Linked DNA regions of Homo sapiens: regions 1 and 2 are each linked to region 3. The links come from fine-mapping of genetic effects on gene expression. A gene starts in region 3. Each other region holds a variant in brackets. All regions are shown on one strand. Distances are between the middles of the regions. Region 1 overlaps KATNIP (katanin interacting protein). Region 2 overlaps KATNIP (katanin interacting protein). Region 3 holds the start of KATNIP (katanin interacting protein).

Evidence for each region. PIP is the estimated chance that this variant, and not a neighbour inherited with it, causes the effect.
Region 1: its variant is fine-mapped to the expression of KATNIP in whole blood (TOPMed, PIP above 0.99).
Region 2: its variant is fine-mapped to the expression of KATNIP in whole blood (TOPMed, PIP above 0.99).

Annotation. Positions count from the first base shown.
Region 1 is chr16:27,652,080-27,660,258 of GRCh38, forward strand. The region is part of intron 6 of KATNIP (katanin interacting protein); the gene reads left to right. Among named protein-coding and RNA genes, the nearest start is that of KATNIP, 110 kb to the left of the region's middle. The variant G/A (reference allele first, on the strand shown) is at 3,975.
Region 2 is chr16:27,769,646-27,777,824 of GRCh38, forward strand. It overlaps KATNIP (katanin interacting protein), which reads left to right. Exons shown (of 28, transcript NM_015202.5): 21 at 216-373; 22 at 1,943-2,007; 23 at 3,454-3,564; 24 at 5,300-5,439; 25 at 7,283-7,384; 26 at 7,965-8,125. Among named protein-coding and RNA genes, the nearest start is that of KATNIP, 220 kb to the left of the region's middle. RefSeq lists enhancers at 1-991, 1,828-2,593, 4,830-5,330. The variant GA/G (reference allele first, on the strand shown) is at 3,409.
Region 3 is chr16:27,546,410-27,554,579 of GRCh38, forward strand. It overlaps KATNIP (katanin interacting protein), which reads left to right and starts at 3,735. Exons shown (of 28, transcript NM_015202.5): 1 at 3,735-3,768. The coding sequence starts at 3,762. GTF3C1 (general transcription factor IIIC subunit 1) reads right to left here and starts at 3,504. Exons shown (of 37, transcript NM_001520.4): 1 at 3,261-3,504. The coding sequence starts at 3,481. RefSeq lists enhancers at 3,401-3,480, 3,491-3,600.

The DNA of each region.
Region 1 (8,179 bases), 110 kb after region 3:
CTTAGGTGTGTGTGCTCCAGTGTACCACCATCCTGGGTACCATTCCGGACACTGAGGATAAGGCAGAAGAGAAACAAGTATATAATGTGTCAGGAGACAACAGGGCTGATAAGAAAAATAAAATAGGAAGGGGATAGAGAAAAATGGCCAGGGGCTGCTATTTTATATGGAGGGTGCAGGGGCTTCCCCTTGATGAGGTGATACTTAAGTAGAGGAGAGGTCAGAGAAGCAGCCATGGGTCAGATTGCATGGGGCTTGAGGGCAGAAATAAAGATACGGGATTCTCCTTAAGTTTGAGGGGAAACCATCATACCTGTTTTACATCTCTGGTGAAAGGAAGACACCGCTTTCCAGAGAGTTCTGCCAAAGTGGCAAGTCTTAGTTATGTTGGCTTTCCTGGGCACATGGTTGTATGCTGCAATGGATGATATGTTCACCGTTTAAGTGGTATTGTCTCTTGCTGGGCGCTGTGGCTCACATCTGTAATACCAGCACTTTGGGAGGTGAAGGGTCGCTTAAGATCAGGGGTTCGAGACCAGCCTGACCAACATGGTGAAACCCCATCTCTACTAAAAATATAAAAATTAGCCAGGTGTAGTGGCACACACCTGTAATCCCAGCTACTCAGGAGGCCGAGGCAGGAGAATCACTTGAACCTAGGAGGCAGAAGTTACAGGAGCCGAGATGGAGCCACTGTACTGCAGGGGCAGAGTGAAACTCCATCTCAAAAAAAAAAAAAAAAATTATATTGTCTCTGTTGATGTATCAGGAATGAAACAAAGTTTACGTTTTAAAAAATTATGATACTTATTTTCCTGATAATGCATAATTGATATAAAAAATTCAAATGACAAGGCTACCATAAGCGATGATTATGCCACTGCACTCCAGCCTGGGTGACAGAGCAAGACCCTGTCTCTAAAAGAAAAAAAACAAAAAATCAAATGATACAAAGAAAACAAAAGTCCTTTCATAATCCCACTGCCCCAGAGATAATTATTGTGAGTAGATGGGTAGATAACCATCCGGACTAAAAATGGCATATTTCATTATATCCAAGAAGAGATCATTGATCCAGAATATCCTGGACCTGTCTCGTTCCCAGTGAGTGGTATCTCCCAAGTTTAGTTACCTCTGAAGTCCCTGAGAGCGTGATACGTGACAGGAAGACAGGGCCACCCTGAAGTCTTCTGGAATGCCTTCTGAGTGTTCTTTCCATTGGGTGGATGGTGGCATGGGGTGAGTCTGGTTTTTTCTCACAGTAACAGTTCAGTGTCTTAAAGTGGTTATTGCTGACATTTATAAACGACTAAAGACCACCATCCTTGGCCAGCCCACCCCAACCCTGCCCCCAGCCAGACTCTGCAGCACATCCCTTCAGTCTTCCTTCATTCGTTCCAGTGATGAGACTTAGGGCAGTTTCAATGCGTGGGGTTTACCACAGCAGGAACTTAGGGCAGTTCCTGCTGTTTGGGGTTACCATATAAATGACCTCTGAGTGGGTGCCTTTTTAACATTTTTAATGGTTATTTTCACATAAATGGGATTATACCATCCATGCTATTTGATTTTCCCACTTTTTTTTTTTTTTCTTTTTGAGACAAAGTCTCGCTCTGCCACCCAGGCTGGAGTGCAGTAGCACAATCACAGCTCATTGCAACCTCTACCTCCCAGGATAAAGCAGTCATCCTGCGTCAGCCTCCCGAAGAGCTGAGACAACAGGAACTCACCACCACATCCAGCTAATTGTTGGGGAGTTTTTTGGTAGAGATAGGGTCTCATATCCCACTATGTTGCCCTGGCTGGTCTTGAACTCCTGGGCTCAAGCAATCCTCCTGCCTCAGCCTCCCAAATTTCCAGATATTACAAGGCTAAGCCACCATGGCCAGCCCCATTTACTTATTTATTTATTTAAAGACGGAGTCTTGCTCTGTCACCCTGGCTGGAGTGCAGTGGTGAGATCTTGGCTCACTGCAACCTCTGCCTCCTGGGTTCAAGCAGTTCTTCTGCCTCAGCCTGTCATGTAGCTGGGACTACAGGCACGTGCCAACACACCTGGCTAATTTTTGAATTTTTAGTAGAGATGGGATTTCACCATGTTGGCCAGGCTAGTCTCGAACTCCTGACCTCAGGTGATCTGCCCGCCTCAGCCTCCCAAAGTGCTAGGATTACAGATGTGAGCCACTGTGCCTGGCCTCCCATTTTTTAAAAAAACTCAACAACATACCTTGGCCATCTTTCTACACTGGTACTCACTCAACTGCCATACAGCTCCATGGTTCAGAGCACTGTTTTAGGAGTTGGTGGCCTGAGTTTGGATCCTGGTCCATTGACTGGCTGTGTGCCAGCAATGGTGTTGATGTAGCAGGGATGAGAGTGATCAGATCCACTTTAGGAGCAAGAGCAGAGGGTGATTTAATGAGGAGAAGATGGGAGGCAGGGAGACCAACAGAAGAGCGAGGCCCCAGCATGTCTTCAGGGACAGGAAGTTGTTTTTACCATGCCCAGTTTTCTGTGCTTGTCCCTAGGATACCAAATCTCCCACCAGTACCAAGCCCTGTGGTTTTAACTTCTCCCTTCTGAATGCATGTGGACATTCTGACCCTTCAAGCAGCGTGGACAAAGAAAGGATCCTCTTAACTATTCAGGATGTGATGGTAAGATCAGTTTTCAGCATCCTAACCCCTAAGGGCTGGGGATCTTTTCCGTAGCCAAGCAGCTGTGCCTGCCTTAAGATGGACTCCGTGAGAGAGTCTAGGAAAACCACAGGGCGGGCACGGTGGCTTATACCTGTAATCCCAGCACTTTGGGAGGCTGAGGCAGGAGGATGGCTTGAGCTCAGGAGTTAGAGACCAGCCTGGGAAACAGCAAGACCTTGTCTCAACTAAAAATTTTTAAAATGTGCAGGGTGTGGTGGCATGTGCCTGCAGTCCCAGGTACTTGAGAAACTGAGGCCGGAGGATCACTTGAGTCCAGGAATTCAAGGTTGCAGTGAGCTATGATTGTGCTACTGCATGTCTGCCTGGATGACAAAGAGAGAAGCTGTCTCAAAACAAATATACAAACAAAAACCGCTGGGCTGCTACCCCCTAGAATGGATATATATATATATATATATATATATATATATATATATATATATATATATATTTTGTTTGTTTGTTTGTTTAAAGAGATGGAGTCTTGCTCTGTCTCCCAGGCTAGAATACAGTGGTGCAATCATGGCTCACTGCGGCTTTGAACTCCTGGGCTCTAGTGATCCTCCCACCTCAGCCTCCCAAGTAGCTGGGGTTACAGGTACGCACCACCATGTCCAGCCAATTATTTATTTATTTATTTATTTATTTATTTTTGAGAGACAAGGTCTTGCTTTATTGCCCAGGCTGGTCTCAAACTCCTGGCTCAAGTGATCCTCCTGCCTCAACCTCCCAAAGTGCTGGGATTACAGGCATGAGCCGCTGCGCCTGGCCAGAAGATGTAAAACAATTCACAAGAGATTTGACTTAATGATGTTACATTTAAATAATAAGAGCTCACGTTAAATGAGCACTTACCGAGTGCCAAGCACCATGTTGAGCATGTAACATCCATCACGACGTTAACCCTGTGAGTTAAGTTCTAGGGATTTTCATTCCCATGTTATGGTTTGAGGAAACTGAGGAATAAAGAAATAATGTTGCTCACCCAGGCCTCAGGGAAGCCCCTGCTGGAAGCCCAGGCTCATGACTCCTTGTTCCTTACAATTCACAGTCACAGGCGGGGAATATTGCACTCATCTGGTTTTGCTCAGAATGTGCCACAGTCTGTTGTGAATATTATTGATGTTATACCCAGGAGCAAGGTATTCAGAGGTGACCATCCATCAGTTATGCTTAATAATGTTTTAAACAATGATAGAGAGAACTCTCCTTAGCCAAATATCTCCTCAGTGAATCCATGACTGAAAATGTGGATGAAAAATGTTTTTCAAAAGC[G/A]AAATCCAGTGAGGAAACAGCCAGACAAACCCAAATTGAGGGGGATACTCTAAAAACAACTGGCCTGGAGTCTTCAGAAATGTCAGTGGCAGCCAGGTGCGGTAGCTGATACCTATCATCCCAGCCCTTTGGGAGGCCGAGGTGGTAGGAATGCTTGAAGCCAGGAGTTCCAGACCAGCCTGGGCAACATAGGGAGACTCCATCTCTACAAAAAATTAGTTGGGTGTGGTGGTGCATGCCTGTAGTCCCAGCTACTTGGGAGGCTGAGGTGGGAGGATCACTTGAGCCCAGGAGGTTGAGGCTGCAGTGAGCTGTGATCATGGCACTACACTCCAGCCTAGGCAACAGAGTGAGACTCTGTCTCAGAAAAAAAAAAAAAAAAAAAAAGGAAGAAAAAAAAGTCAGTAGCATGAGAGACAAAGGGCACTGTTTCAGATTAAAGGAGAGTAAAGAAATAACACAATAGCAAAGACTTGGAACCAACCCAAATGTCCAACAACGATAGACTGGATTAAGAAAATGTGGCACATATACACCATGGAATACTATGCAGCCATAAAAAATGATGAGTTCATGTCCTTTGTAGGGACATGGATGAAATTGGAAATCATCATTCTCAGTAAACTATCGCAAGAACAAAAAACCAAACACCGCATATTCTCACTCATAGGTGGGAATTGAACAATGAGATCACATGGACACAGGAAGGGGAATATCACACTCTGGGGACTGTGGTGGGGAGGGGAGGGGGGAGGGATAGCATTGGGAGATATACCTAATGCTAGATGACGAGCTAGTGGGTGCAGCGCACCAGCATGGCACATGTATACATATGTAACTAACCTGCACAATGTGCACATGTACCCTAAAACTTAAAGTATAAAAAAAAAAAAATCCTAAAAAAAAACACAATAAAGGCAGTGTGATGAGATCCTAGGGGTGTGAGGGAGAGGAATTGCTACATAAAAGGAGAATTTTGGAAAATGAATGAAATTTGAGATGAACTATATTATATTAGATAATATTGTATTGATGTTAAATTTTCTGAGTTTGATAGTTACATTGTGGCCATGTAAGAGAATGTCCTTGTTCTCTGGAGACACATGCTGAAGTGTGCAGGCATGAGGGGCTGTGCATAAATGGGTCAGGATCAAGAATATGTGTGTACATATTGAGAAGGAAAAAGTGGGAGGGGAGAGAAGGAGAGAAATGTGGCAAAATGTTAACAACTGGTGAATATACGTGAAGGGTATTTGGGTGTTCATTATACTAGCATGATACGTTTTCTGTAGGTTTTACATTTTTTCAAAATAGAAAAAGCTAGCACATTAAAGAGGAGAGGAGCTGCTCCAGTAGAACTAAGCATCACCAAAAGAAGAAATAGAGAAAAATGGCCGGGCACAGTGGCTAACACCTATAATCCTAGCATTTTGGGAGGACGAGGCGGGTGGATCACCAAGGTCAGGAGTTCAAGACCAGCCTGGCCAACATGGCAAAATCCCATCTCTACTAAAGAAAGCATACCTAGTTAAAAAACAAAAAACAAAACAAAACAAAACAAACAAAAAAAAAACAAGGCCAGACGCAGTGGCTTATGTCTGTAATCCCAGCACTTTGGGAGGCCGAGGTGGGTGGATCACGAGGTCAAGAGTTCAAGACCAGTCTGGCCAACACGGTGAAACCCCGTCTCTACTAAAAATACAAAAATTAGCTGGGCGTGGTGGTGTGCACCTGTAATCCCAGCTACTTGGGAGGCTGAGGCAGGAGAATTGCTTGATCCCGGGAGTCGGAGGTTGCAGTGAGCCGAGATCATGCCACGGCACTCCAGCCTGGATGACAGAGCAAGACTCCATCTTGGGAAAAACAAAAACAAAAACAGCATAGTAGGATTGTATCAATGTAGTTTCCCAATTGTGATGTTATGCTGTAGTTATACAAGGTATTACCATTGGGGGAAACTGGGTGAAGGGTACATGGGCTCTCTCTTTATTTTTCCTTACAAATGGCATGGGAAATCTATAATTAGCTCAACATAAAGAGTAAAAATTAAATAAAAACACAAATACCCAGGTCTTACCACTCAGAGGATCTGATTCTGGGTTTGCACTCAGCCATTGTTCCCTTTTTTAACGTCCTTATGTGACTATAATTTGTCGCAATGTTTGAGAACCATAGTTATAAGGAAAAGATAAAGCTGCAGTTCTCAAAGTTGGATATGCATAAGAATCGCTTAGGATATTTGTTTAAGACGCATTTTTTAGGTCTGAACTTTTAAGCTAATAGAATTTGTAGATAGGAGGTAGCACATTTTTAGCAAAAGAACTCCCAGTGATTCTGAACCAGAGACCTGAAGATTAGAGCACACTTCCAATGGAAGGAGCATCTTTTAAGTTACTTTGGACTTTTTGGCTTAGATTTGAGGACTGTAAAAAAGGGATATTTTAAAAAATCAAAATTAAAAGCTTTTCTACATTGTACAAAGTTAAGATGACCAACCAGTTAAAAAGCAACAAAAATACAGAGTTTCACCAAGGTCAGAAAGGTACAGGATGGAAGGTGGGGTCTGCCCTTCTCTTTGGAACCATATTCTGCACTTCTGGAAACCTGGAGGGGAGACGATGTCCCTTAAAAAAATAACAGATGGAAGTACAGAAGCAGATAGCCCCTAAAAATATCTCCTGTACTATAGGTCAATTTGTTTTTTGTTGTTGTTGTTGTTTGTTTGTTTTTTCAGAGTCTGACTCAGCTGCCCAGGCTGGAGTGCAGTGGCATGATCTCAGCTCACTGTGACCTCTGCCTTCCGGGTTCAAGCAGTTCTCATCCCTCAGCTTCCTGAGTAGCTGGGATTACAGATGTGTGCTAGCATGCCCAGCTAATTTTTTTTTTTTTTCCCAGTAGAGACGGGGTTTCACCATGTTGGCCAGGCTAGTCTCAAACTTCTAACCTCAAGTGATACACCTGCCTTGGTCTCCCAAAGTGCTGGGATTACAGGCGTGAGCCACCATGCCTGGCCTGTAGGTCAATTTGTATCCAAAATATTGACCATTAATATCAAAAAAAGACTGAATTATGTTCAGCATAGTCTTTTAAGAAGACAAGGAAGTATTCATATATTTTCAAAATATTTACATACAGAATAATTTGTTTAGGTTTTTTACTATTTAAATGGGTAAATTTGGCTGGGCTCAGTGACTCATGCCTGTAATCCTGGTGCTTGGGAGGCCGAGGCAGGAGGATCACTTGAGGCCAGAAGTTGCAGATTAACCTAGGCAACATAGTGAGAATTCATCTCTATAAAAAATTAAAATTAGCTGGGCATGCTAATCTGCACCTCTAGTCCCAGCTGCTCGGGAGGCTGAGGTGGGAAGATTGCATGACACCAGGAGTTTGAGGCTCCCCTAAGCCATGATCGCACCACTACCCTCCAGCCTGGGGGACAGAGCAAGACCCTGTCTATACAAAAAAAAAAAAAAGTGAATTTTAGATAAATAGAAAATTAATTTTGCATTGTTATTATATTAAGACAGTACTATGTTATGAAAATAAATATGTACCCATCCTATTTGGTTTTTCTAAGTTTGGTTACATTTTAAAATGTGGCTCAAACTTGAGAAAAAACAATGCAGAGAAAATAGAGGCATGTAGGAGAGGCTTTCTGATTAGGTATGACTTGAAAAAATATGCTAAAATGCAGGATAAGGATAGAAATACACTGAGGAATGGGAGGGAGTGTGGCCAAACTGAGGGCTCAGATTCGTGACTAGAAGGGCCAGCTTCAGCTCACAGATGTGTTCTGTTGGCCGGTTTGGTGGCACGCCATGGTTATCATTGTTGCTGTTTGACTTGGACTTAGAAAACTTTTCTTCTGAGCATGCACCCCCAGTTTGGCCTGGTCCCCACTACCTATTGTACAACACTGTGGTTTATTTGATAGTTTATATAACATTACGCCTCCTGAGGATGTCGGAGTTTGCGAGTCTTGTTTTAGGGAGGAGAAATACCAAGTGACAGATTCCGCAAGCCTGGGAAGGTAGCTTGGGTTTTTCCATAAACATTCTGGGGCCTTGGCTAAGTCATACTCCTCTGGGGCCCCCATTTCCTCCTTTAACAAGAAGCGGTGAATTAAATATCTCCTGCACCTGCCAGCTCTGAAATCGTAAATCCTAGGTATGGTTTATAAGAAAATCTTATTCCCATATTACAAA
Region 2 (8,179 bases), 220 kb after region 3:
GTGTCCGCTGTAGCAGGGGGCTCGCCTGTCTTGTCCTCTGCTACCTGCCCAGCGCCCACACAGCACCTGATATGGGAAATGGACCTCGGTCAGGTGGCTCTGCGAAAGGCTCCCCATGGTGAGCACAGCTGCCAGCAGCTCCGGTCACGTCAGCACCGCTTCTGTCCCCACATGGCCTGCCTCCCTTCAGTCATGTTATTTCTTTTGTTTGCCAGGCCAAGATTGTCCACGTCTCCCTGGATGGCCTGTGCGTCTCCCCGCCAGAGGGCTTTCTCATCCGGAAGGGGCCAGGCAACTGCCACTTTGATTTTGCTCAAGAAATCCTCTTCGTGGACTACCTACGGGCTCAGCTGCTGCCCCAGCCGGCCAGGAGGTGAGGAGAAAGTGGGCGCCACACACAGCCCCTCCCGGCCCCTGGGCCCGCTTGCTTTGCAAGTTGCTCTGATGTACATTCCGAAAGGGTTTTGAAACGATGATCAAACGCATTGCTTTTCAACTTAGTCATTTTCTAAAGCTCAGCCAAGCCTCACCGGAAGCCTGTGGAATGGACTTACCTTGTCTGGGGACATTTGGGTTTTTCACAGTCTGGAGTGCTGAAGATTTTAAATGCTTCATTGCGTTTCCTGCTGAGAAAAGAGGCTACAGCCTGCCTCCATTCCAGAAATGCCTGCCGGCCAGTTTGGGGAAGGGCCTTCCTTCTCCCGTTTCTGTGTTCCTGATTTAGAAAGATTCAAGGAGAAAAATAGAGCTTAATATTTCATGGATTCACTGGGATTTCTCGGCCCCAGTCTCAGCTGCATTAAGTTCATAACGATTTGTAAATGCCACGTTAAGTTTACTCATTGAAACCCCCTGATGTCCAAACGCCAGAGGCCAAGCTCTTGAAACAAAATGAGTTTCCCTGCACTGTAGCGGGGTTGGCTGGCTGGGCTGGTCACTAGGAAGTCATTTAATTGTAACATTGCCCTTGAAATGGAAGAGAACCAGGCTAGGGCTGGAGGGCACTGACAGCGGACCAGGGAGAGGGGCCCCGTCAGGAGGGCCGTGGAGGAGAGGATCCTTCCCGAGGGCCAGCTGTGTGAACACTTTGATGTGTCCTTTGGGAAATCCTTCCAGCCACCCTTTGACCTAGCCAGTATGATGCCCGTTTTACAGATGTGGGAACTGAGGCTCTGGCTGGTGGAGCCAGGTGCTGAAGATCATGAAGCCAAAGCCATCAGGGCTGTGCCTGCCTTCCAGCCTCCTCTCACTTCCCTCTCCCCATCCTGCCCCAGACTCCAGCCCTCTGGCCGCTTTCTGGGGCAAACACCAGCAGCCCAGTGACTTCCCACCTTGGGCCTTTGCTCTGCTGCTCCTCTGCGTGGAAGGTTCAGCTCTGGCACTTCCCAAGGCTGCCTCCTCCTGGAGGCCTTCCCAGAGCACTCCCTGAGGCAGCCTGCCCCACCCAGTCCCTCTGCCCTGTCACCCCGTCCTGGCTGTCGGCACAGCGTGGACCCTCCTTGTGTTTAAAGACATAGAGGGGGTTGGTTAAGAAAGGGGGCAGTGGTACCAGGCAACCTCACGTCCCATCCCGGTTCTGCCACTACCAGCTGCATGGCCTTGAGCAAGTGACCTCACTTCTCCGTGTTCCAGTTTCCTCATCCACATCCCAAGCATCTAAAAATACCCACCTCCTAGGGTTGTGTTGAGGAATAAAAGAGTCCATTTCAGGAAAGCCCTGAGCCCCGTGCCTCCCTGGCACAGCATCCTGCCAGCATTGGCAATGACTGTCATCTAGAGCGGGAACTCCACACGAGCAGGGGCCTCATCTCTCTTTTCCCTGCTGCATCCTAGGGAACGCTAAACTGCCATGTTTCTTCAAAGGCTGTTACCTAGGGGGTAACTGGCTGGTGATTCTGGGCCGTCGTGAGCTTCTTCATGGTGCTGTTTTGTGCTTTTTCAGGCTGGACATGAGAAGCCTGGAGTGTGCAAGCATGGACTACGAGGCACCGCTGATGCCCTGTGGCTGTATCCTTCTCCTCCCGCCCCACCAGCACATTCTGGGCCCCGAGGCAGCGCCTGGGCCGCAACTGCCCAGCCAGGGTTTCAGGCGGCCACAGATGAGGCAGCTGGAACTCCATGCAAGGAAACCAAGGCAGAGGATAGGAGGCCTCCTGGGTCCTCAGGGCCACTAGGAGCTGCTGGAACTGGGGCAGCCAGGCTAGTTCCTGCTGAGGCTGGAGGGGGCAGCACCCAGGACTCCAGCTGGGAGGGGCTAGAGAAGCTGGCACTGACCCCAGTGGCTGGACTGGGGAAGGGGGGTGTCCTGGAACCAGCCAGGGAGGAGGTGAAGATAGAAATAACTTGGCAATCCAGGCACAATAGCTCACACCTGTAATCCCAGCGCTTTAGGAGACCAAGGAGGTTGGATTGCTTGGGGCCAGGAGTTTGAGACTAGCCTGGGCAACATAATGAGACTCCATATCTTAAAAAAAAATAAATAAATTAGCTGGTGGTACATGCCCATAGTCCAAGCTACTTGGAGGCTGAGGTGGGAGGACCTTTTGAGCCCAGGAGTTCGAGGCTGCAGTGAGCTCTGATTGCACCACTGTACTTTAGCCCAGGCAGCAGAGCCCAGCACTCTGGTACTACTATCATTCCCATTTCACAGCTAGGAAAACTGAGGCACAGAGAGGCTCAGTAATTTGCCCAAGGCTGCACAGGTGGGAAGGGGTAGGGCCCAGGGGAGGTGAACCCAGGCAGCCTGGCTCTAAGGCCCGCTCTCTAGCCAGCCAGTTCTGGAAGCACTGTCTCTGGCTATGCCATCATCTGAGAGCCACCCGGCCTGCTCCTGGGAGTGCGGGGAGTGAGCAGAGCACAGGGCTGAGGAAAGGCTTGATGCCCAGCTCTGCACGTGGGACTTCAGCAGCAATGGTGGTCTCCTTGCCCCGGCCCATGGCCCCTGGCGCTGTGAGGTTTATGTGTCCCCTTCTTAGCCTCCTGTTTACTTGAAAGGGATGGAGGAGGTTGCAGGTACTCTGTTCTTGTCATTTCACAACCAGGGAAACTGGAGCATTTTGTTCAATACCATACAATCAGTTTGTGACACAGATGTTTCCCCATCCTGCCTGCTCCCTGGAGAGCACCCTCTCCTCCCGTCCTGTCTCCTGGGGCCTAGAGGAAGGCTTTGAATTCCTAATACACACACACACGGGCACACGCACACGTGCACACATGCATGCATACACACACATGAACACTCACATGCACACACACACACACATGCACACACATGCAATTTAAGAAAATGTGATGCTACCTATATTTTGATAGGCTCTAGTTGCAATAAGAGAAAAATGTTTTTCTCTCATTCATCAACATAAACCCAAAACAATTCCTCTTATCTTTGCCATTGTTTTACTATATTCT[GA/G]AAAAAAAAAATTAAGCCTTCTTTTCCTTAATAAAGTGTCCCAGTCATTTTCCAGTTTCAGCTTCTCACCAGCTGGGGCGACCCCTACTACATCGGCCTCACCGGCCTGGAGCTGTATGACGAGCGAGGAGAAAAAATCCCCTTGTCGGAAAACAGTATCCTTTGTAGGACAGGAGTGGGCTCCACCCAGACTGAAGGGAGCATGGGAGGGTCGGGAACGGGGCAGAAGCCTTGTGTGCAGAGGGAAATGGCCCTCTAGGAACCAGAGCCCAGGGGGCTTTGCTTATAGTCAGATGCTGACCCTTGGGGACGGGCAGCAGAGAGCAGCTCCCAGCCCTGCCTGCTAAGACATCAGGAGCAGGAATTCCACAAACCAGAGTCCTGTGGTCCAGTGAATTGAGAGAGGCTGCCAACTATAGCGCCCCCTTCTCGGAGAACCACAGATACTTTGGAGTTCCAAAGGCTCTGACAAGGTCTGCAGGGAGAAGCCTGTTGCACTGTGTTCAACTCAGTGTGTCCTGAATTTCTTAAGTATGGAACCCTTTGTGCATAGTATGCCCACACCAGAATTTGCAGACTGTTAGCCCAGTGCATTTTAAAATGAGTTGCTAATATTTTTAGAAATCACGAGGTTTCACATGAAAACCCTGATCTCTGGTTTCCCCTGAGAAATTGGCAACACAGGCCCTTGATTATGCATAGTGACAATGGCTGGACCTGGTTATCTGTTGCCATTTCTCCCCAAGCATATCCTTCTGGTCTACCTTAGCCCCCCACTCCTCCCATTGTTATCTACCAGGCCCCGAAACTCACTGCTAATATTTTCTCAGGGCTCACTCTGTGCTACCTCATCTGCCCTCACAACAATCTTGTGAGGTGATTGCTGCTGTTATCCCCATTTTACAGATGAGGAGCCTGAGACACAGAGAGATTGAGTAACTTGCCTAATGTCACACAGCCAGTGAGTGTCCAGACACCAGCTCTTGACCAAGCAGTAGGCTATCCTGCCTCTTTCATGTAACCTGCCTGGCCCCCTCGGATCTTGAATCTGTGATCCCTGGCCCACCACAGTTAGGGAAATACCAGGGCAAGTCGAACCCCAAAGCCTGCCTTGCATCTGTTTGGGGTCCCTGGCTTCCAGTTGGATCCTTTTCTGCCTTCCCCTGGTGCCACCACCCTCCTCAGCTGGGATGAATGATTCTTGATGTTTTAGATCATTATTAGCGACTCCTCGAAGCTATAAAGTTTCATTGATTTTACCAAAGTGCTCACATCTGGTGCACTCTGAGATCCTCACATCCATCCTGGGAGCTGGAGGTTTTTATACCCATTTTACAGATGGGAAAACAGGCCCAGGGTTGACCTGTGACTTGCCCACGCCCTCACAGGTCATAATGGCAGAGGCAGAGCTAGAAGCTGGGTTCTGCAGATCACATTAGCTGGGTCCAGCTGCTCCGAGGTCCTTCCACACTGACCAGGAAGAGAGGCTCGGCATGATACTCACATGCCAGGGTAGAATCCAGCCACCGCCCCATTCCCTTCCAAAAGAAAACCTCCGCAGAGCTTGCCCTCCACCCTCTCAAGCAGCAGCAACATTTTACGTCCCCAGCTCTGGCAGTTCCCTGCAACGTCTCTTTTTCAGCTGGCCTTCTGTGTGGTTTCCTTCTCTCTCTACTTGAAACTGACCACCTCTCCAGACACACCTGCTCCCCTTGGGCCCGGCACTCCCCGTTTCCCCAGGACACGTCCAATTCAGCTGTCACTGCTGCGGCTGCCCAAAGCATCAGCCCTGCCAGCCCCAGAGTCCCCCGAGCCACGCCATCAGCCTGAGGGTGGCTGGCAGCCCCGAGCACACAGATTTGGGTTATGGCAACTTAGACGTCTCCTCAGATATTGCGGCCTTCCCCGACAGCGTGAACTCCCTGGAGGGTGTGGGCGGGGACGTCCGCACCCCAGACAAGCTCATCGACCAAGTGAACGACACCAGTGATGGCCGGCACATGTGGCTGGCTCCCATCCTGCCGGGCCTGGTGGGTTCCCGGCAGCGGCCACCGCAGCTCCTGGCCCTCAGGCGGGCAGGGGGACTTTCTTTCCCTGGTCTCAGTGACACGTCTTTCTTCCAGGTCAAGTTAATCTCAAGCCAAGATGCTTGGGAGCTGTCAGAAAGGTTTAGGTCTTTGCTAACTTGCCTGATGGGGTCAGCTCTTCCAGGCCAGCAGTTCTTTCTCTTTTATAAGTGGACACCTGGGGCGAAAGGGGTCCCATGGGAATCTGAAGCCAGGAACCCCAGCACAACTGCCTGAGGGCTTGGGCGTCCTGGGTCCCTGCAGGCAGCCCTCTCTGGTTCTCTGCTCTGCCTGGCTTTGCAGCCACTGTGCCCTCTTCCTCCCCACCCAGCTCTCCGCACACTCACGGTTTCTGCCCCTTCCTACATCACCAGGTAGATGACCCCAGTACGGCCGCCCTGCCCTCCTTCTGGCCCTAAATTGGCCTGGTCAGCTCTTCCGACCAACTGACTCAGTTTCCCAGATCTCAAATCTTGCACTGGGTCCTGCTTAGCTTTTAGCTCTGAGGCCTCATGGTGAGAAGACGTGGTTGGTTGTGGTGGAGAGGAAGGGGAGAGGGCATGGACGGGGTGGTCAGCCCCCCTGCAGCCTCTCAGCCCAGGGCCAGGTGCCTGGTAGAGATGCACAGCGGGTTCTTGGCAGCCATATGACTAGGGATGTGTCCCTTGTCCATGCCATGGGACTGAGTGGGGGATCGGGGGCACCTTTTTCTCTGAAAACACAGGAAGGTACAGCATCAGCAATTCTATGACGGAAGTTTTCCAAAGGCCACCCTAAAATTAGACCCCCCCTATTGAGCGTCCTCAGCTTCCCCTGCCCCATTGCAGAGGGGGCAACAGAGCTCTGTCCTCCCTGAGACTCAGGCCACCCACTGACGGCCAGCGGGTATTTTCCATTGTCTAGCACTGGAAGGCCTTTTGGGGTGCGGCGACTTCAGCTGTTGCTCTCGCGGCTGGACTCCAACATCTGTATCTGCTTGAGCCTCACAGGCAACTGAGTTTGGAGACCCTCACCCTGACCTTTATTGTTTCCATGGTCCAGCCAGGAGGCTGGCCCTACCCGAGCAGCCGCACTCCCTCTTGGCATATTCTGAGGATGGTCACAGGCTGGGGACCAGGGCCTGGGGCAGGACTGAGCCTGCAGTCTGTGGCCAGTGTGGAATGCTTATTTCTTGATTCTGTCTTGCAAGGGAGGGCCTCCCCTAATATCTGAGAGCTTTGGTTGGGGGTGGGGAGAGGGAGGGCTGTTTGAGGCTGCTCCGTCCCACTTTTCCCACTGGATTCTGCCCCGATCTAGACAGCCCCCTTTTTACTCCCCCAGCGGAGGTTCACAGACACGCCCTGGACATTGTCCAGCAGCACCTTGGCGTTGCTTCTCAGTGATGGTTTGGGGAAAGGACAGACAGGGTCAGATGCTGATCACCATGGCTGGTGCTCAACCCGAGTTGGGGACTGTCCCTTTAGCTCATGGGGCTCTAGACTATTTCTGGGCCTGACCTGAGGGGACGTGGGGGAGGGCCGAGGATGTTCCCAATCCTCCACTGGCATTTAAATGAGGGCTCCGACAGGCCCAAGAACACAGGCCCTCCAAAAGCCAGCTCAGCGGTTTGTTGCAAATGCAGCCACACGTGACCTGACTCAAGATGGGCTTCGAGGAGATGAAAGGGGGCGGAACTCCAGGCTGGCCCACGTGGCAGGCGCTGCCTTGGGCACCACCGCTCACCCCAGCCCACGCCTGGCACCCCCAGCCCAGCCAAGCGCCTCTGTTTCCAAACATGCCTGTTTTAATTAGTGCCGCTCTCTGACAGGTGAACCGGGTTTATGTGATTTTCGATCTGCCTACCACCGTGTCAATGATCAAACTGTGGAATTATGCGAAAACACCCCATCGAGGGGTGAAGGAGTTTGGCGTAAGTACTTATTAGCTGAGTTTTTTGAGATAATTATGCTCGTTGGTAATTAGGCCGCCGGCAATTATCATTTGTCGCAGTTTGATTTACTTCTCTCTGTTGCAACCCTCAACACAAATGCCTGGTCGTCAGATGCAGGCGAATTTCCCACCCAACCATGAATTCAGAACCTGCTGGCAGTGATTTCAGTGTCACCCTGAGCAAATAGAAAGTGGGTTTTCTTTCGTCTTTTCCTCTAGAATCCCACTGGTTTGGGGCGGTGACCCTGGGATGGGGAAAACAGGGACCCTGGATACCAGAGACCCAAGTTTGCCTCCAGCTCTGCCACTTGTGCTAATGGTATTAAAGCCCCTCGGGCCTCAATTTCCTCATCTGCAATGCATGCTGATAGCTCCTGCCTTTCCCAATGGTTGTGAAGATCTGAAATCACAAGGCAGACACAGCACACAGTAGGCGCTTGTTCCTGACAGCCCCGTCTTCCCGAGGAGAAAGCCTTGGCTCAGAGCAGTAACGCGTTCTGCCCAAGGTCAACGTGGGAGGGACGAGGGGGACCCATGAGTCCTGCCCCGTGTCCCTGCAGCTCCTGGTGGACGACCTGCTTGTGTACAATGGGATCCTGGCCATGGTGAGCCACCTGGTGGGGGGCATCCTGCCCACATGTGAGCCCACCGTGCCCTACCACACCATCCTCTTCACCGAGGACAGGGACATCCGCCACCAGGAGAAACACACCACCATCAGGTAGGGCCCCAGCCGGCCCCATGGCCTCCCCACCAGCCCTAAGGAGGATGGATG
Region 3 (8,170 bases):
TACAACACCATGGAGACATTTTTCATTTGTGCTTCTTTCATGCAGTTAGCCAAGCTTGTCAAGTTTTTTTTTTTTTGAAAAAAAAAAAAAATACATACATATATATATATATAATTTTTTTTCCCCTCACTATGTTGCCCAGATTGGTCTTGAACTACCGGGCTCAAGTAATCTGCCCACTTCAGCCTTGCAAAGTGCTAGGATTACAGGTGTGAGCCACCTTGCCTGGCTGCTTGTCGAGTTTTATTTTGAAATCTCACTCATATCCTACACTAGTCTAATTGCGGCTAAATCCTATGTACATGTTTCAGCCCTTTCCTTCCTTGCCCCCTCTGTGTTATCTGCACCATTTAACCCTCCATTCCTTTTTTTTAAGACTTGAGTTTTGATCTTGTCACCCAGGCTGGAGTGCAGTGGCGCAATCTCGGCTCACTGCAACCTCTACCTTCTGGGTTCAAGCGATTCTCCTGCCTCAGCCTCCCTAGTAGCTGGGATCACAGGCACCTGCCACCACACCCAGCTAATTTTTGTATTTTTAGTAGAGAGAGGGTTTCACGATGTTGGCCAAATGATCCACCTGCCTCGGCCTCCCAAAGTGCTGGGATTACAGGCATGATTCACCACACCCAGCCCAACCCTCCGTTCTTAAATGATCCTGTCTCCTCCCAAACTTCCAGAACACCACTCTGACCTGACTGTCCTCTACCTCTCCAGCCACACCGCCTCAGTCTTCTTTTGAAAGTCCCTCACCCTCCATCCAGCCTTGAAATGTAGGTGCACTGCAGAGCTATATCTCAAGACCTCCAACCACACTACACTCTCTCTTAGGGCTGATCTTAGCCAGCTGCTTTAATTACCAGCTGCTAGGAATGACTCACAGATGTCTAGCTCAGTCCCTCCCTCTGGCCTGCTTTCACTCCCACGAAGCCAGATGTTTACTAATTAAGACTCTTCACTTGGACAACTCAAAAGAACCTGAAGCTAAATGTGTCACATGTCTCTTCAGCAAAGTCCCCACCTCCCCCAGACTCAACCCCCACGCTGTTCTTCCGTGTTCCCAGCCTCAGAGATGAGAATCAGGGTTCGCTCAGGTGCCCAAACAGCAGCCTACTATGTCTTGACTGCCTGTGCTCTTCATCCCCACGCCCACCATGGTAAGCCAGACCATGACTAGATTACTAAAAATCTCTCAACTTCACTCTTTGCCCCTAGTCTGACCCTCTCTTCAGTGACTTCTCACTGTCCTTTTGATAAAGGATAAGCTTTTTTTTTGAGATGGATTCTCCCTCTGTCACCCAGGCTGGAGTGCAGTGGCACAATCTCGGCTCACTGCAGCCTCCACCTAGCTGGGATTTCAGGCGTCTACCACCACGCCCAGCTAATTTTTGTATTTTTAGTAGACATGGGGTTTCACCATGTTGGCTGGACTGGTCTTGAACTCCTGACCTCAAGTTATCCGCCCACCTCTGCCTCTCAAAGTGCTGGGATTACAGGCTGATAAACTCTTTAAGTAGGTTAAAAGACTTGATTCCAGTCCAATTTGGCTGGAATCTGAACTCAGACCTTCCTCAAAGTCTGGGTTCTTCCCTTGCTAGTTGACTTTTAGCATGCCACTTGACCCCTCAGGGCCTCGATTTTCTCTTCAGGAAAATGGGGAGAATATTACCCATCTCCTAAGGTTTCTGTAAAAATTAAATAACATGTTGTATTAAGGATCTTAGCACAGTCCTAGCTATTCCTCATTCCCTACCTCCAATTCCACACTTCAGCCACTTACTTCACATTTGCTGTTCTCTGTCCAACAGTCCTCTTTGCCAACTGGCTGCCTAAATCCAACCTTTAAGTTTTGTCTCGAACATTATTTTATTTTATTTTTGAGACAGAGTCTCACTCTGTCACCCAGGCTGGAGTGCAATGGCTGAATCTCAGCTCACTGAAACCTCTGTCTCCCAGGTTCAAGTGATTCTCCTGCCTCAGCCTCCTGAGTAGCTGGGATACAGGCATGCGCCACCACGCCAGGCTAATTTTTGTATTTTTAGTAGAGATAGGGTTTCACCACGTTGGTCAGGCGGGTCTTGAACTGCCGACCTTGTGACCCATCCACCTCAGCCTCCCAAAGTACTGGGATTGCAGGCATGAGCTGCTGCACCCGGCCTGTCTTGGACATTATTACCTCTTGGAACCTCCCCTGACCCTCACAATATGGCTTAAGAGCACAGACGCTGAAAATAGCCTGGGTTCAAATCAATTCTTAGTCACTTATTGCCCCCAGAACCTTAGGTTACATAATCCCTCTCTGTGACTCAGTGTCTTCCTCTGTAAAATGAGGACGATAACAGCACCTACCTCATAGGTGAGGATCAAGTGAATTTAATCTCCTGTTTAACGGAGTTTAATCAAGTGAGGATCAAGTGAGTTTAAGCTCCTAAAGCTTCTAGAATAGATTCTTAGAACAGCAATGTGGCCGGGCGCCGTGGCTCACGCCTGTAATCACAGCACTTTGGGAGGCCGAGAGGTGCGGATTGTCTGAGGTCAGGAGTTCGCGACCAGCCTGGCCAACATGATGACACCCCATACCTACTAAAAATGCAAAAATTAGCCGGGCGTGGTGGAACATGCCTGTAATCCCAGTTACTCAGGAGGCTGAGGCACGAGAATCGCTTGAACCTGGGAGGCGGACGGAGGTTGCAGTGAGCCAAGATCGCGCCACTGCACTCCAGCCTGGGCCACAGAGAGAGACTCTATCTCAAAAAAGAAAAAAAAGAACAGCACCTCACCCATGAAGTCCCTGATAAATGTCAGCTTTTAGCATTATCGCTAATTGTCCTGATACGCAGATCTCGAGTTGCCCTAGGCTATCTGCACCGAATGAATATACCATGAGGGTCTGTTGATCTCAGGAGTCTCCAGTCTGGCTCTAAAGTGTCTTTCCTGCTCTAATCCTATCCTCCAATGTAAAGGAAACATTCTTTTAAGCCTGAAGAATATCCCCAATCCTGTTCGCCATTACCCCAAAACACACACAGGGACAAAACGGGACATCACTAGATTCTCCCCCTCCCCCCGCCAACTCCATCGGACTCCAGGGCCCTGCCAGGCCTGAGGGACCCCAGATTAGCCTTACCGCCGTGCCCCAACTCAATCAACAGGCCTCCGGTACTTGCACAGCCCCACTCCATTCCCCCGCCCTGCCCCCAGCTCCATCAGCCCCCGGGCCCTGCGCCCGCCCGCCCGCCCGCCAGGCCAGGCCGCCCGCTGACCGGTCCTGGAGCTGTAGGTCGGGTCGCTCCCGAGGCTCCTCATAGAAGCTGATGCCCGGGTGCGTGGCGAGGGCCCGCCAGAGAAACTCCTGCGTGCAGGGTTCCAAAGGCAGCGGGAAGGGCGGCACTCGCGTCTCCAGCCGGCTCCACAGCGCTGGCAGACACAGGCCATCGAGCCCCTCCAGAGCGACTTCGTCCAACAACGACTCCAGCGCGTCCATTGCTACTTCAGTCGGCGGCGCCCGGGGCGCATGCGCAACGCACCGCCAAGGGCCTTGGTCCATCGCGCCTGCGCACAACGATCCGGGGCCCGGGGAGGTGGGTCAGACCCAGGGTTCGGAGGAGGAGTTCCAGCGCGCCGGCATGACGTCACTCCCCGGGGGCGGGCTCAGTAAGTGGAGCTCCACCGTCATTGGTCCGGGGCCCCGCAGTAACCAGGGGAACTGCAAACAGTGTAGAGGCCGCTTCCGGTTCGAGCTCCCGGAACCGCCGCCTCTAGGGATGGACGGTGAGTGTCTGTGGGCCCCTCCGGGAGGTCGGGCTGTTATTCTCCCATCCCTCCCGACCGCGCTTTGGGCAGAATCCTAGGCCATGAACCCCTGGACCACCACTTCCTGACCCAAGGGGGTCTCCGAAATGAGGGATAGGGAGGCTTAGTGGTCTGGAACGCGGAGGAGAGCCTGGGGGAGTGGTCAGTGCTGTGACCATTCTGCTCGGCTGTGGTCGTGAAGGAAACCGGTACTGGCCGGGAGCTCAGTGAAGGGATGTAGGGTGGGGAAGGAGAAGTAGAGGTCTGAGGAGGGTCTTGTGAATGTTGGGATGTGGAACTGTCGGATTTGGGAGTTGATATGAAAACAAGCTTGATCGTGGGAGTGCAATCGTCAGGTGCTGGGAAAGGGAATTGGTGTGGGGGGTGAAGGGAGTTTAGGAAATACTCCCTTTCTGTGCCTTGGCGTTAATAATAATAGCTCCCTTTAACAAAGTGCTTTCCAGTACCAAGAACTCTGTAAGTACTCTTGGGCAACACCTCGCTAAGCTTCATACCAGCCTTTTGAGTTCAGCGTTGTTCCATTTTACAGATGATGAAACTGAGGCTCAGAGGTGTTAAGGAACTTGCCCAAAGTCAAACAACCAGCATGTAGCAGAGTGAGTGAGAAACCCAGACACCCTGTCTCTGGAGCTGAATTATGGAGCTTGAGATTTGGACCGGTTTTGAGGGTCCCTTTATTCCAGAGGTTGTAAATGCAGATGTCTGCAGAGGAGAGTCTAGTGAGCCGGATTGAGGCTGTAACTGAAAATCAATTCCTCACCTGAAAGGAAAGCTGCTCACCAAGCACCAGCTGATTGTCCTCTTGGGGTACTTCTCAAAAACAGGGTTGGCCAGTCACTCTGAAGGCCAGAGACAGCTTGTGGGCCCCCATTTAGGGATCCCTGATTAGAGTCATGGTATTGACAATTGGAAGCAAATGGAAAATAGGCTATTCTGATATCTCACTTTGCAGATGGGAAGACTAAAGTCTAGAGAGACTGGTAGGGTCTGGGCTAGAGTCCAGATCATTTTTCTAATTACAGCACTGTCCCTCACTTCTCGGGAATTTGTTCCTGGGGAATCCACATTCTTTTTATATTCACTGAATGTAGTGTGGAGAAAATGTTTTTAATTGAACATTCTGTCATATGCTTAAAATATATCTTTTCCCTTTGTACTTTAGAGGTACTATAAAATGTGCTTTACCATTTTGCCTTCTGGAAAGGTCAATGTAATGTTGCTATAGAACATCAGTCCTCAAACCTTTTAAGCCTTGGGACCCCTGTATGCTCTTACCTCAAAGAGCTTTGTTTATTTATATTTATGATATTTACCATATCGAAGATTTAAACTGGGAAAATCTTAAGATGTCCATTAATTAGTTCCTTTAAAAATAATAAAAATTGGGCCGGGCATGGACTCGTGCCTGTAATCCTAGCACTCTGGAAGGCCAAGGCAGGTGGATCACTTGAGGTCAGGAGTTCGAGACCAGCCTGGCCAACATGGTGAAACCTTGTCTCTACTAAAACTTAGCCGGACGTGGTGACACATGTCTGTAATCCCAGCTACTTGGAAGGCTGAGGCAGGAGAATCATTTGAAGCCGAGATCTTGCCACTGCACTCCAGCCTGGGCAACAGGGCGAGACTCTGTCTCAAAAAAACCCAATAATAATAATAATAATTGGCCAGGTGCAGTGGCTCATAATAATCATAATAATAATTGGCCATGTGCAGTGCCTCACACCTGTGATCCCAGCAGTTTGGGAGGCTGAAGTGGGTGGATTGCTTGAGCTCAGGAGTTCAAGACCAGCCTGGGCAACATAGCTAGACCCTGTCTCAAAAAAACTCCAACAACAATAAACCCATTACTTCTGAACATAAATAATATTTTTAATGGAAAACAATTACATTTGCCTCCAAAAAATTAATAGGAAGAGTAGCATTATTTTATGTTTTTTCAAGTTTATTCAATAGAAATAGAAAAAACTACTCTCATTTCTGCTTCAGGATTCAAACTGTTTTTTGTTATGCTGTTTTGGCTGGTGTGTATGAAGAAAATTTGGCCTCATACAAATATATAATTGGAGCAGAGAGAAACATTTTAATTGCCTTTTCAGATAACTGTAGACACTCTCCTTTCATACTATACAAAATTTAGCAAATGCCAGTTTCTTTTTTCTTTTTTTTTTTTTTTTTGAGAAAAAGTCTCACTGTCGCCCAGGCTGGAGTGCAGTGGCACGATCTCAGCTCACTGCAACCTCTGCCTGCTGGGTTCAAGCGATTCTCCTGCCTCAACCTCCCGAGTAGCTGGGATCACAGGTGTGAACCACCATGCCCAGCTAATTTTTTTTATTTTTAGTAGACATGGGGTTTCCCCATGTTGGCCAGCTGGTCGCAAACTCCTGACCTCAGGTGATCAGCCTGCCTCCATTTCCCAAAGTGCTGGGATTACAGACGTGAGCCACCATGCCTGGCCTGCAAGTGGCAGTTTTTTTTTTTTTTTTTTTTTTTTGAGACGGGAGTTTTGCCGTCGTTGCCCAGGCTGGAGTGCAATGGCCTGATCTCGGCTCACCGCAACCTCCGCCTCCCGGGTTCAAGCGATTCTCCTGCCTCAGCCTCCCAAGTAGCTGGGATTACAGGCATGTGCCACCACGCTCAGCTAATTTTGTACTTTTAGTAGAGATGGGGTTTCTCTATGTTGGTCAGGCTGGTCTCAAACTGCCAACCTCAGGTGATCCGCCCGCCTTGGCCTCCCAAAGTGCTGGGATTACAGGCATGAAGAACCATGCCAGGCCACAAGTGGCAGTTTCTTAAATGTTAGTCACAGTGTGTCATCTGAAGCCTTATAGGTGAACTTTTATACTGTGTTACATTAAAATCCATTGGTCTATCTTGCCCTTTCATTGGCTGCTTTACCCATATATGGTTTTATAACATCAGCCATTGGTCGTTTAGAAAATGTTGGTTCAGTGAGTTATGCAAATCTAAACGTTGACCTTTCAGATGCCATTATACGGTATTTAAAAAATCACATTTGTTAATATCACCACCTATTTCATTTTAAAAAGGAGTTTAAGTATTAGGAAACTATCAAACTCAAGGTAATGGAAACAAGTTTTCAACTTGTTTTCACTTGACAGCTTGAATTTTAACATTGGCAGCAAATATTGTCAGCTGTTTCCTTGAAGTGACAGACTCACTTATTTCATATTTGAGAAAATTTCTGCCAAATTCCCAAGACTGAATAACCAAAATTTGTCTATTATTTTATTTACTGCCATGTACTCACATTTAAAACAAACAAACAATTATTTTTATTTAAGAATGTCCTGATGGTTGGGTTCAGTGGCTCACGCCTATAGTCCCACCGCTTTGGGAGGCCAAGACAAGAGGATCTCTTCAGCCCAGAAATTCAAGACCAGCTTCGTCAACATAGTGAGACTCCATCTCTACTAAATAAATAAATAAAATAAATAAATAAATAAATAATAGTCAGGCATGGTAGCATGCACCTGTGGTTCTAGCTGCTAAGGAGACTGAGGTGTGGGGATCACTTGAGCCCAGGAGGTCAAGACCAGCCTGGGCAACTTAGTGAGACCCCATCTCTGTAAAAAGTAAAAAATTAGACAGGTATAGTGGCTCGTGCCTGTAGTCCCAGCCACTCAGGATCAGTTGAGCTTAGGAGGTTGAGGCTACAGTGAGCCATGACTGTGCCACTGCACTCCAGCCTGGGCAAAAAGACCTTGTCTAGAGAGAGAGAGAGCAGGGGGTGGGGTGGGGGGAGAGAGGAGAGAGAAAGGAAGGAAGGAAAGAAGGGAGGGAGAGGAGAGAGAAAGGAAGGAGGAAAGAAGGGAGGGATGGAAGAAGGGAGGGAGGAAGGAAGGAGGGAAGGTTTCTAGTACATTGTGGTAACATTGCCTTGATTCAGACTGCAAGCAGTTTTACCCACCATTGCTTTGTGTCATAAGTACAAATGTCAACACAGCCAGATGGGGTGGCTCACGCCTGTAATCCCAGCACTTTGAGAGGCCAAGGTGGGCGATCACCTGAGGTCGGGAGTTTGAGACTAGCCTGGCCAACATGGTGAAACCCTGTCTCTACTAAAAATACAAAAATTAGCTGGGCATGGTGGCACATAACTGTGGTCCCAGCTACTTGGGGGAGGCTGAGGCAAGAGAATCGCTTGAACCCAGGAGGCAGAGGTTGCAGTGAGCCAAGATCATGCCACTGTATTGCAGCCTGGGCAACAGAGTGAGACTGTCTCAAAAGAAAAAAAATTCAACACAGTGAAATACTCTTCAAATTATGATTAAAATACTTTTGTCTTTGTGGACCCCTCCTTCTCCCAGGATCTGCACCTTTGAGAAACATTGCTACAGTC